Linked DNA regions of Homo sapiens: region 1 is linked to region 2. The links come from fine-mapping of genetic effects on gene expression. Tissue or cell type: whole blood. Region 2 holds a variant in brackets; the other region holds the start of a gene. All regions are shown on one strand. Distances are from middle to middle.

The links. PIP is the estimated chance that this variant, and not a neighbour inherited with it, causes the effect.
Region 1: DLG5 starts here. The variant in region 2 is fine-mapped to the expression of DLG5 in whole blood (INTERVAL, PIP above 0.99).

Annotation. Positions count from the first base shown.
Region 1 is chr10:77,924,131-77,929,604 of GRCh38, reverse strand. It overlaps DLG5 (discs large MAGUK scaffold protein 5), which reads left to right and starts at 2,850. Exons shown (of 32, transcript NM_004747.4): 1 at 2,850-3,388. The coding sequence starts at 3,085. It overlaps DLG5-AS1 (DLG5 antisense RNA 1), which reads right to left and starts at 2,793. Exons shown (of 1, transcript NR_024585.1): 1 at 1-2,793. RefSeq lists a silencer at 981-1,157.
Region 2 is chr10:77,872,010-77,877,483 of GRCh38, reverse strand. The region is part of intron 1 of DLG5 (discs large MAGUK scaffold protein 5); the gene reads left to right. Among named protein-coding and RNA genes, the nearest start is that of DLG5, 52 kb to the left of the region's middle. RefSeq lists a silencer at 1-53. The variant A/G (reference allele first, on the strand shown) is at 2,970.

The DNA.
Region 1 (5,474 bases), 52 kb before region 2:
TCCAAATTTCCCTATTCTAATAAGAACAACAGTTATTGGATGAGGACCCGCCCTAATCCAGTATGACCTCATTTGAACTAGATTACATCTGCAAAGACCCTATTTCTAAATAAGTCACATTCACAGGTACTGGGAATTAGGACTAGAACATATCTTTTGGGGGAACACAATTCGACCCACTACAAGGGTGTGCCGCAGAAGGTATAAAATGCTGCAGAAGTACAAGGTCACACCAAGGTCACTGGCTAAAGGAATCCTAAAATTGGTCCGGGTGGTAACTAACATCTGTAATTCCAGAACTTTGGGAGACCGAGGCGGGAGGATAACTTGAGCCCAGGAGTTCAAGACCAGCCTGGGCAATGTGGCAAGACCCTGTGTCTACAAAATATTTAAAAAATTAGCCAGGTGTGGTGGCAAGCACCTATGATCCCAGCTACTCCTCGGGAGGCTGAGGCAGGATAGTTGCTTGAGCCCAAGAAATTGAGGCTGCAGTGAACTGTGTTTGCCCCACTGCAATCCAGCCTGGGCGACAGAGTGAGACTCTGTCTCAAAAAATAAGTTTTTTTTTCTTTTTTTTGAGACAGAGTCTTGCTCGGTCACCCAGCCTGGAGTGCAGTGGTGCAATTTCAGCTCACTGCAACCTCCACCTCCTGGGTTCAAGCAATTCTCATGCCTCAGCCTCCTGAACAGCTGGGATTACAGGCTTGCACCATCATGCCTGGCTAAATTTTTGTATTTTTGTTAGAGACGGGGTTTTACCACGTTGGCCAGGCTGGTCTCCAACTCCTGAGCTCAGGCAATCCGCCTACCTCAGCCTCCCAAAGTGCTGGGATTACAGGCGTGAGCCACTTTGCCTGGCCAAAAAATATGCTTCTAACCATAAGCCAGATTCGTCTCCAACTTTTCCTCTTTTCCCCTTCCTCCACTTTCACCTTCCTTCCTCCAACTAGCTTTCTAGTTAATCCAGCTAAGAACACAGGTGCCGGATGAAAGGTGCCTGAAAGGTGACTGCCTTGCAGATGATTTAAGCTCTGGGGTTGCCCTAAGGGAAGTGGCGGCCAGAAAGAACTATATCTCAGGAGCAGGACTGGGAGGGAAGAGCCAGGGAGCCTGTCTGGAACCCTGATACTGTGCAATGGCCAGCCTTCCACTCCTCTAAAACCTTGCTTAGCCATAGAGGGTCAGACTACGGGAGCAGGCAGGTATCTTTAAATAGTTCATTTCTGCCATATTGGGGTCCATCTGGAGGTCTTAAAGAACTTGTAACTCTATGGACCCCATTCCAGAAAAATATATAAATGTTCACAAAAAAGTTGAGATCATGTCAAAAGCTTCATTGACATCCTTGAGCTTATTCATGAAGCCAAGGCTAAGAACCCCTGATCTAATATTCTCCCTCCACCATTTTTCCTAAGGACAAAACAGATCAGCAAGGATTATTGGTTTGTTCCACCTTGTGCAGCTGCTTAGAGGGGAGTCCAAGTCCAAAGTGCAAATTCTGATACTCTTGTTCTTTCTACCATATAGTGAGTTCGTTTCCATAAATAAAAACGACTTCTCCCCTTGAAGAAGCAGACTAAGAAGACACTGCTTTTTGAGGGAAGGGAGGAGGCATGTGGCTGGGACTGGCAGTGTGGGTAGACAAAGTGCCTCTCACCCCCAGCGAGATCCACTCATTCCAACGTAGATATTTGAAATGGACCTGGGTTCCCACTCTACAGAGGAGCACTGCGGGATCACTGAGCGCAGTCAGAGTTCCAGCTTTGAAGGACCTTGTCCTGCAGTCAGGGAGGTAAGCAGTATGTGTCCACAAACGGCTGTCGTGGAAGAGAAGACATTCTTGGGCTTTAAGGGGGACTGCAGATCCTTTCCAAGTCATCAAAGGAAGCAAGGTAGTCCGCTGATTTGTCTCCCTCTGAGACATTTAGGGGGAGAGCGCCTCACTTGCCAGAAAGACCAAGGACTGCACCGCAGACACCCACCTTTCTTTTCCTCATCCGGCGACACATCCTTCCTCCTGCCAACATCCTAACTCCTTTACACTCTGGGGACCAGCTCTTCTCAAATGCTGGCGCGGGGAACAGCCTATTTACCGCAGTTGAGGCGATTTTACTGGGAAATTCTCTTAGGAGCTCCTTGGAGAGGGAAAGCCTCACGGATTCGGCGGAGGTCTTAATCTGGAGATGTCCAAATTTAGGGGAAACCCTCCCCACCATTTGTCTCCAGGCTGTATTTTGGAGTTCTCAGATTAGGACCCTCTGGACTGGGGGCAAGATTTGTATGAGGGGGTCTCCAGCAGCTTGTGGGCTGGCCGCGTGCCAGGCCTGACTCCGTGTCCCCCACCCCCGGCTGCGCCTGGGCCTCGGGGGACCGGGAACCAGCCGGCGCCGCGTCCCCGCCTAGCGGGCGGGCCGGGGACCCCTCCCCTCCGCCCGTCCCCTCCTCCCCTGCTGCCGCCTCCCGGAGGGACGGCCTGGGGAGGGGAGAGAGGAGGGACGGGCCGGCGGCGGCGGGGCTGTGGCCACGGGGGAGCGGGTGGCGGCCGCGGGGCCCCGGTGAGCCGGGCCGGGGTGCACGGGGGCCGAGGCGGCCTCCGAGCCGGGCCGGAGCTGTCGGGAGCCTGGGAAACACGGCCCAGGCGACTTTCTCCCGGGAGTTGTAGTCTTGCTCTGGGGGCGGCGCGCGGCCCGGCTTTCGGGGCGAGTTTTCTCGCGGGGCGGGCGGCGCGCGCGGAGGCTGAGGGGGAGGGGGAGCATGCCCGGCTGGAGCCCGGCCTCGGGGCGCGCCCCGGCCGCCGTCCCCACCTCCGCCTCCTCCTTCTCCTCCTCCGTCTCCTCCTCCTCCTCTTCCAGTCCCGCCGCCGCGGCAGCCAACATGGCTGCGCTCCGGAGCCCGGGAGGCGGCCGCTGCTGAGCGCCGCCCGCCGCCCCGGGCCCCCAGCCCGCCCAGGCCCCGGCCCATGGCTCCCGCCGCCTCACGGCTCCCGGCGCCCTAGGGCTGCTGCCGAGGTGCTCGCCTGCCCGCCCGCCGGCCTCGGGGGGCCCGGGAGGCGTCCGGCGGGGCGGGGCGGCGCGGCCCGCCACCATGGAGCCCCAGCGCCGGGAGCTGCTCGCCCAGTGTCAGCAGAGCCTGGCCCAGGCCATGACGGAGGTGGAAGCCGTGCTCGGGCTGCTCGAGGCCGCGGGAGCGCTCAGTCCCGGCGAGCGGCGGCAGCTGGACGAGGAGGCGGGAGGCGCCAAGGCGGAGCTGCTGCTCAAGCTGCTCTTGGCCAAGGAGCGGGACCACTTCCAGGACCTGCGGGCGGCGCTGGAGAAGACGCAGCCTCACCTGCTGCCCATTCTCTACCTGAACGGCGTCGTCGGGCCGCCGCAGCCCGCCGAAGGCGCGGGTGAGTGGCAGACCCTTGGCCCCCGCCTCTGGGACGCGCCCTCCGCTTCTCCCTCCTGCTGGCCGAGGGTACCTCGCCGGGGCCGCCGCTCCACCTGGCGATGGCCTCGGTGGACTCGCTCCTCTGGCCCAGTTGGGGAGGCGGCGGTGCGCGGATCCCGAAGTCCCGCCGCCTCCCCCAGTCCCGCCGTTCGCTGTGAACAATGCCCCCCGCTGAAGGCCTTCACTCTCAGGTGCCTCGACGACAGGGTCCCCGGGGGCCACCAGGTCCAGTAGCGGGTAGGGGGTACCTCGGAGGATGTCCATCAGTCCCTTTTCTGAGGCTCCTCACCGTCCGCTAGCTTTGGCACCCTGTGCTAGCCTTTAACCAAGGGTACCGTCCAGAAGAATGGGACTTGGGCCAGGACCCCTACTCTTAAGTTTTGGTCGCTGCCATCCTGTGCCGGGGCCACAACTGCTTTTTCATTTTCTGGCTGTCCCAGCTCCTTTTTCTCTGCTCAGAGCCCAGTCTCTCCCAGACTGGTGGCTGATTGTGCACAACGCCTGCCTGGGTTTCTTTGGAAACTGGGCCCGGAAAAGTTGGGGAAGTTGCATTGCACCATGGGAAAATCCTAGTAGTGGCTGCTGGGGCTAAGTTCTCTCCCTGAGAGCACAGAGCTGCTTAACGAGGAAGGCTGGTGACTGGTTCCCTTGAGGGTGCCTTTTGGAACCCCTGTGTCTTTGGTCTTGGGGATGACTGATTTGTAAGTGTGTGTCTGGGTGCAGGAACGGATACTGGCGGGAGTTTCTGACAAGTGGTAGGCTTGTCCTGGCCTGGCCGTGGAGTGTGGAAGCCAGCCTTTTTAGACAAGGCAGCTGGAGGAAGAAGACATGGCACTGAGGGAGGAGGAGAACTAGCATTTATTGGGCATCTACTGTTGTGGCAGGCGCTCTGCTTTATCACGTTCAGTTGTCGTTGCCACTATGTGAGCTTTCTGTTATTCTTTGCCAGAGAGAAAACTCTGGCTTGGAGTGGTTAAAATGCTCAGAAAGTATTGGGCACCAGGAATTTTGAATTATAACCTATTGTTTGATTTAACTTGTTCAGAGCCAGGAAACAAAGTGCCATCTTTCTAGGTCTTGTCCCTGTTTTAACAGTGAATCGATAGGTACAGTAAAAATAAATAAGGATATATGTATAAAAGAAAAACAAGTGAACCGAGAGGGCTGAGAAACTGCCCTTAGCAACCTGAAGGTCAAAGGCTGATGGGACCCATTTATTTGGCTGTTAAAAGCCCCACTTATTAAGGGAATGATTTTATAAGGCATTCCTGGTAACAGCTCTCTTACGTTGGCCATCTTAACCTCAATTTTTGTAGCTGCAGGAAACTGACAGAGAGACTAAATTGCTGGCCACACAGCAGGTCATTTCATTGGTGGCCCTCCCGTCTCCACTTTGAGCTTCTGACTTGCATCTCTGTCCCTCAAACCTGCATTCTTTCCCCCCAGTTGTGGTCATGTCAGAGTTACTGGGCAAACCTAGTCCTTTCCTGGGATAGTGCTTTGGGAGATGCTAGGAAGGGACTGTCAGATGTGGCCATGAGGATAAGGACAGAGGGGATCTCAACAAAGTAATTTTTTTCTTTTTAATTGTATCTATGTATCTATCTAATCTATCTCTGAATGAAGAAGTTAAGATCTGTTTCTGAAAGTCTTTCGTAAAGCACAGAACTTAGTACAGACTGGAAGTCTGCGTTGGGAAGCATGTGAATCAACGCTCGCCTTAATCTCTGAAAATTGATTGATGGATCAATTGCCATTAATTAGGTCTCACCCTTTCCGTGTCTGGTGGAGAATGTGGGGCCTCATGGGGCTGAAGTTCTAGGAGCTAGTCTTGACCTCTAAGGAAGGCAGAGATTAGGGTTTGGATTTTATCCCCTAGGGCATTGATTTCAGACCCCAGTTTTACCACAATGCAGAGTTATGTGACTTTGGAGAGGGTCATGAAATCCTTAGAAAAATACTTTTCAAGGAGAAGTTAAGTTCATTTTACTTAATGCATTAGAAAAACGCTGGTTGGGTGTGGTGGCTCATGCCTGTAATCCCAG
Region 2 (5,474 bases):
TGCTCATCCCAAAGCCTCCAGGAGCCTTTGCTTCGCTGATGAAGACAAGCAGGCTATCCAACTGTGGACTCTTTTCATCCCTCGAAATTCAACAAACTTCCATCTTTCCTTTATGTGCTAGTTTTATTTTATTTTTTTTTAGTCCCTGTCACTTGCCACTTAAAAGAGGAAAAAAAAAAAAGTAAAGAAAAAGACCAAAACCAGTCCTGTAGTTAGCGAGTGAAGGGTCTTGCATGGTACTGAATGATTTAATTCTGGGGTGCACATGTTTTGTTTTCCCTCTCTTTACATATTTTTGCCTTGGGGCATTTTGGGTGGGGAAGGGAGGGGAGTCACAGATGGCAAAATTGATACGAGAGTTTTCTCAGGTTCAGGCAATTTAGTTCATTATTTTATAAATGGCCTCAAAAGTCCAGTGGGAAGGGGTTAGGGAATGTGTTAAGGAATGGACACAAAAGCCAGGTGTGGTGGCGCACACCTGTAATCCCAGCACTTTGGGAGGCTGAGGCGAGCAGATTGCTTGAGCCTAGAAGTTTGAGACCAGCCTGGGCAACAAAGAGAGACCCTGTCTCTATTTATTTTAAAATATAAAGTTTAAAAAAAAAAAAAAGAATGGACAGAGAGCTCGGCAGCCATCATCTTCCTTCCTGCCACCCCACACAGATCTCACTGCATACCTGAGGTTAAATCTCCAATTATCTGGGCAATGCCCCTTCCCCTTTACTTTTTTTTTTTCCTTCCTTCCTTCCCTTCCTTCCCTCCCTCCCTCCCTCCCTTCCTTCCTTCCTTCCTTCCTTCCTCTTAGAAAAAAAAGATGGGATTGGCTGGGTGTGGTGGCTCATGCCTGTAATTCCAGCATTTTGGGGTGGATCACCTGAAGTCAGGAGTTCGAGACCGGCCTGGCCAACGTGGTGAAACCCCGTCTTTACTAAAAAATACAAAATAGCCAGGCATGGTGGTGCATGCCTGTAGTCCCAGCTACTCAGGAGGCTGAGGCTCGAGAATAGCTTGAACCTGGGAGGTGGAGGTTACAGTGAGCTAAGATTGTGCCACTGCACTCCAGCCTGGGCAACAGAGTGAGACTCTCTTTCAAAAAAAAAAAAAAAAAAAGAGAGATGGGGTCTTGCTATATTGCCCAGGCTGGTCTTGAACTCCTGACCTAAGTGATCCTCCTGCTTCAGCCTCCCAAAGTGCTGGGATTACAGGCATGAGCCACCTCACCTGGCCACCTTTACCTTTTAAAGATAGGTGAGCAGTTCTTATAACGACCAGAAATAGGGGGAATCCACATCATTATGATTTTTTTTTTTTTTAGCGCAGTGATGCTGCTTGTTCCAAAACTTGGTGGAAAATACTATAGCATTATCTCAGTTGAGGAAAACAAATATTAAATCTTAACTTACAAACCAAGAGTAGGATTTTCCCACCCTCGGGTGGCATATAAGGCGCATCAGCAGGACTTCCTTGATGACATGCCAGTGTCTGTGGTTGCTCCATTCCAGGGCCATGGTCAACCTATACCTCCCTGAAATACTGGGCCTTGTCCGCTTCCCAGTTTGGGTTTCAGTGTCTGTAGCCTTGGGCCGTGCTTTTAAAGGGTAGGAGGCCGAGCCCCTAGGGAGGGGCTGGGGCTGCCCTGAGTGTAGTTTTTTCTTTTCTTTTTTTTTTCCCTGCCACCTTTCTTCCCTCCTGAGAACTGAGCATGGTTCTGCAAGCAGGCTTCCTAGTAGCCTAATAGTAGGATATGAGCCCTCTGTCCCCCCAGCATCCCAGGAGGTCTTTAAAACAGAGAAGGTGGGCTCTGCCAAAGGTGATAGCACTCCGCAACTTTCACGGTCACCTCCTTCCTCATCTCTGCAGTTCACAGAATTGAGTGGCTCTTGAGTGCAGGCTTGCCCACACACTGCGACTCCCCTCTGCAGGCAGCACAGGCATGGGTATGGAATGGGGGCCATGAAGCCACAGCTCCTTCTCTTTCTTCCCACTTGGGTGGAAGTGGCTCAGCTCAGAATGCCTATTGAGTGTTGTCTCGGTGTGGGGAGGTGGGCAGGGAGGAGGTGAGCCCATTCCCAGGGAATAGAGGCTGGGGGGCCTTGGCCCAAGCCAGCCCTGCTCTGAGACTTCTTACCCTTCCAGAGAAATGGGTTCCGCCTGTTGTCTCCTGCAAGCTGATCGGGCTTCTCATGTGCTTATCCAAGGCCACCACCTTTCAGGGCCAGCTCCAGGCCCCTGCCTCCATGAAGTCCTCTCTGACTGCTCTTCCCTGTGGAGCCGGGCAGCAGTATTGTGTGTAGGATTTGAGAGCACAGGCGCTGGGGTAGACTGCCTGGGTTTGTATCCTGTTTGTGCTCTTAGTAGCCCTAGCACGACCTTCAGCAAATTAATTTTTCTAACTCTTAGTTTCTTCCTCTGTGAAATGGGACTAATAATGACAACCTTTGGGTTGTTATGGAAATTAATGGAGGCAATACATGCAAAGTGCTTAGCACAGTCCCAGTACTTAGTAGTGCTTAGTACCTATTAGCTGCTATTATTTTTCTTGAGAGTGCCATATACAGTGCAGCAGTTTGCTTGTAGATTGTGTGACTTGTCACTCTAGTACAGCTTTCCATGTAGGTAATTGAGGAATTGAACAGCAGAGTTGGAAGGGCCCTCTGCAGGTCTGGACTGACCATAATAACACCAGCTAACACTTAGAGTACCGGCTATGCGAGGTACTGTTTCAGTCACTTTTCACAAACAGGCAGAATATCCCTTATCTGAAATCCTTGGAACCAGAAGTGTTTTTGGGGTTTGGATTTCTCTAGATTCTGGAATATTTGCATATACATAATGAGATATCTTGGGGATAGGACCCAAGTCTAGATGTGAAACGTATTCTCATTTCATATACACCTTATATACACATAGCCTGAAGATAATTTTGTTTTTCCTTTGAGGAAGCAGAATAAACTGTATCCTGCGCCTGC[A/G]TTTTGACTGGCCCATCACATGAGGTCAGGTGTGGAATTTTCTGCTGTGGTGTCATGTTGGTGCTCAAAAAGTTTCAGATTTTGGAGATTTTTGGATTAGGGATACTCAACCTGCATTAAATCAGTTTATCCTCAAACAGCTCTAAGAGATAAGCACTTCTATCATCCCATTTTACTGATAAGTATGTGGAAGCACAGAGAGGCAGAGTGACTTACCTAACAGCACACAGCTCATAAGGGGCTGGGCTGGGAGTTAACTCCAAGCAGTTTGGCCCCAGCTGTGCTGCAATCATTATTGTTTGGCTCAGAGAGAAGGGCCTTCTTCTGAAGGCTACTCACAGCAGATGAGTAACCTCCAGGCTCTTGAGCCCCTGGCTTGCCATTCTTTCTCCCGAACCTGGCCCAGTGCCATGCTAGGCGGGGGGCACGTGTTGGAAACCTGGCTGACACGTGTGAGTCCGGGAGCGATTGGGCACCTTCGGTCATTCTGCTGTGGTTCGTCAGGCTGTGGTTCCTCAGTGTGAGCTGGAGGAGGGCGGCAGGATGTGGCAGGTGCCCTGAAAGTGACTGTCCTCCTGGGGCCCAGGCAGCACTTCCTGCTCTGTCTTCAGGGACCCCAGAGCTCCAGAGAGTAGCAGCTTGGTGTCTCCCTCTCCTTTCCCTGGGGATTGAGGTAGGGGGTGCTGGCCTCCCTGTGACCGTGAGCCGTCAGCTCTCTGCCTTTCTGCCTGGGCCCTTCTGGAGGACAGGGAGAACTCTGTGTGCTGGTTCAAGGCTGGAACAAGTTCCTTCAGCCACTGTGAGCTTCACGAAGAGGAAGCGTGAGTCACCAGGGCCTTTACAAGCTCCAGGTGAATGGAAGGGGTGTGTTGGGGGCGTGCTTCCATCTCTCTTGGGCCTCATGGTCTATGGGAGGGGGCCTGGGAGGGCTGGGGCATTCCATTATTGTTCGGGTGGTTTTTCCTGGAATTTCTTTTGAAGTGGTCTTCGTGACCCAGTGGCACTGAGTCACGGGGTAAACAGAATTATCAGGGGCTGGGCTCTTGGAAAGGACACAGACAGTGCCCGTGGGCCAGTCCCAGAGGGTCACCAGGCTGGCTTCCTCCCAGTGGCTTCCTTCCACCTCTCCCAGGGTTTTGGCTGCAGCTTCCATGTGCATCCCACCTGTGGACTCCAGCTCTGGGCCAGTGTGTAGAGCATGTGCCCTGGGGGCTTGTGAGAAATGCATTCTGAAACCCCACCCTCATCTGCTGAATAAGAGTTTACGTTGCCCAGGTAGTTCCTTTGATAGTAAAGAATCTCCTTATATCACGCTCTGGCCCACATGTCCACGTCTAAACTTGGCCTCAAGCTCCCCTTTTCTGGAAATGTTTCCACATCATCCAACTTTCTCTGGATCTCATCAGCACCTCTGCATGGTACTTGGTAGCTTGCACAAGTTTGTGGTTGGTGCCCTCCTCTCGTGTGTGTGTGTGTGTGTGTGCACACACACACACACACATCAGGAGGCTGATCCTACAGTCCCCCTTAGCCCTGGGCACTCTGTGAGGTAGAGAATGTCCCTCCACACTGTTTCTCCTTCCACAGCAGCCCATCCTAGGTTTCAGGGCAGGTTGGGTGGAGGTGCCTTCAGGAGAACCTGGGGAAATTGTCTCCTCCTGGATTGGGCCATGGCAGAAGATGAGGAGCACCAAATTTGACTCCAAATTTGATGGCGAAACCCCAGAGGTAGATGACGCCGACACCTGCCCCTCCGCCCCATGGAAGCAACCGGCCTTGAAAGGACACCGTGTGACTTTGGGGGACAGTGGCTTCTTTTGCCTTTTCCTGACTGTCCTGACCACACAGGCCTTTAGGACAACAATAACCGCAGAGACAAAGCATGACCGAGACAATGTCGTCTTTGGGCCTTTTTTCCCCCTTAATGACGTCCAAGGCTCTGGGAACATTGTAAAAACTGGGTCCTGTCCAATTTTAACCACTCCCCCCACCAGCTCCTAGGAGCCCTGCCAGCTCCCTGGGTTGGGGGTGGGAGTGATGCCCAGAGATGCACACAAAGATGTCACGCTGCCCTGGTTAGGCCCCAGAGGCCAGTCAGGACTGCAGGGACAGGGAAGAGGAACAGAACGTGTCGCTTGGCCTGTGGACTCCCCCAGCCAGGGAGGTAGGTGGGCGGAGAGAGGGAAGGGCATCTGCCAAGCTTAATTAACAGTGGAAACTTGCCACAGGGGAGGAGAGAGACGATTTGAAGAGGAGGGGCAGTTTACTGGAAGAAGGGGCACTGCTGATGCCAAGAGTAAGAAAGAGGGGAGCGTTCCAGCAGAGGCATCTGGAGCGCAGGCTGCCAGTGTCGTAAGCTGGGATGGGTTGAGCATAGAGATTTCTGGAGGTGAGAGTGGGGAAATTTATTTGTGCCTGCTTTCCTGAGTAGACGTCTTCCAAAAACAATCCACCAACATGTCAGTGGCTAGCCTTCCTTGCCCCCATAAAGAAAAAATACTATTT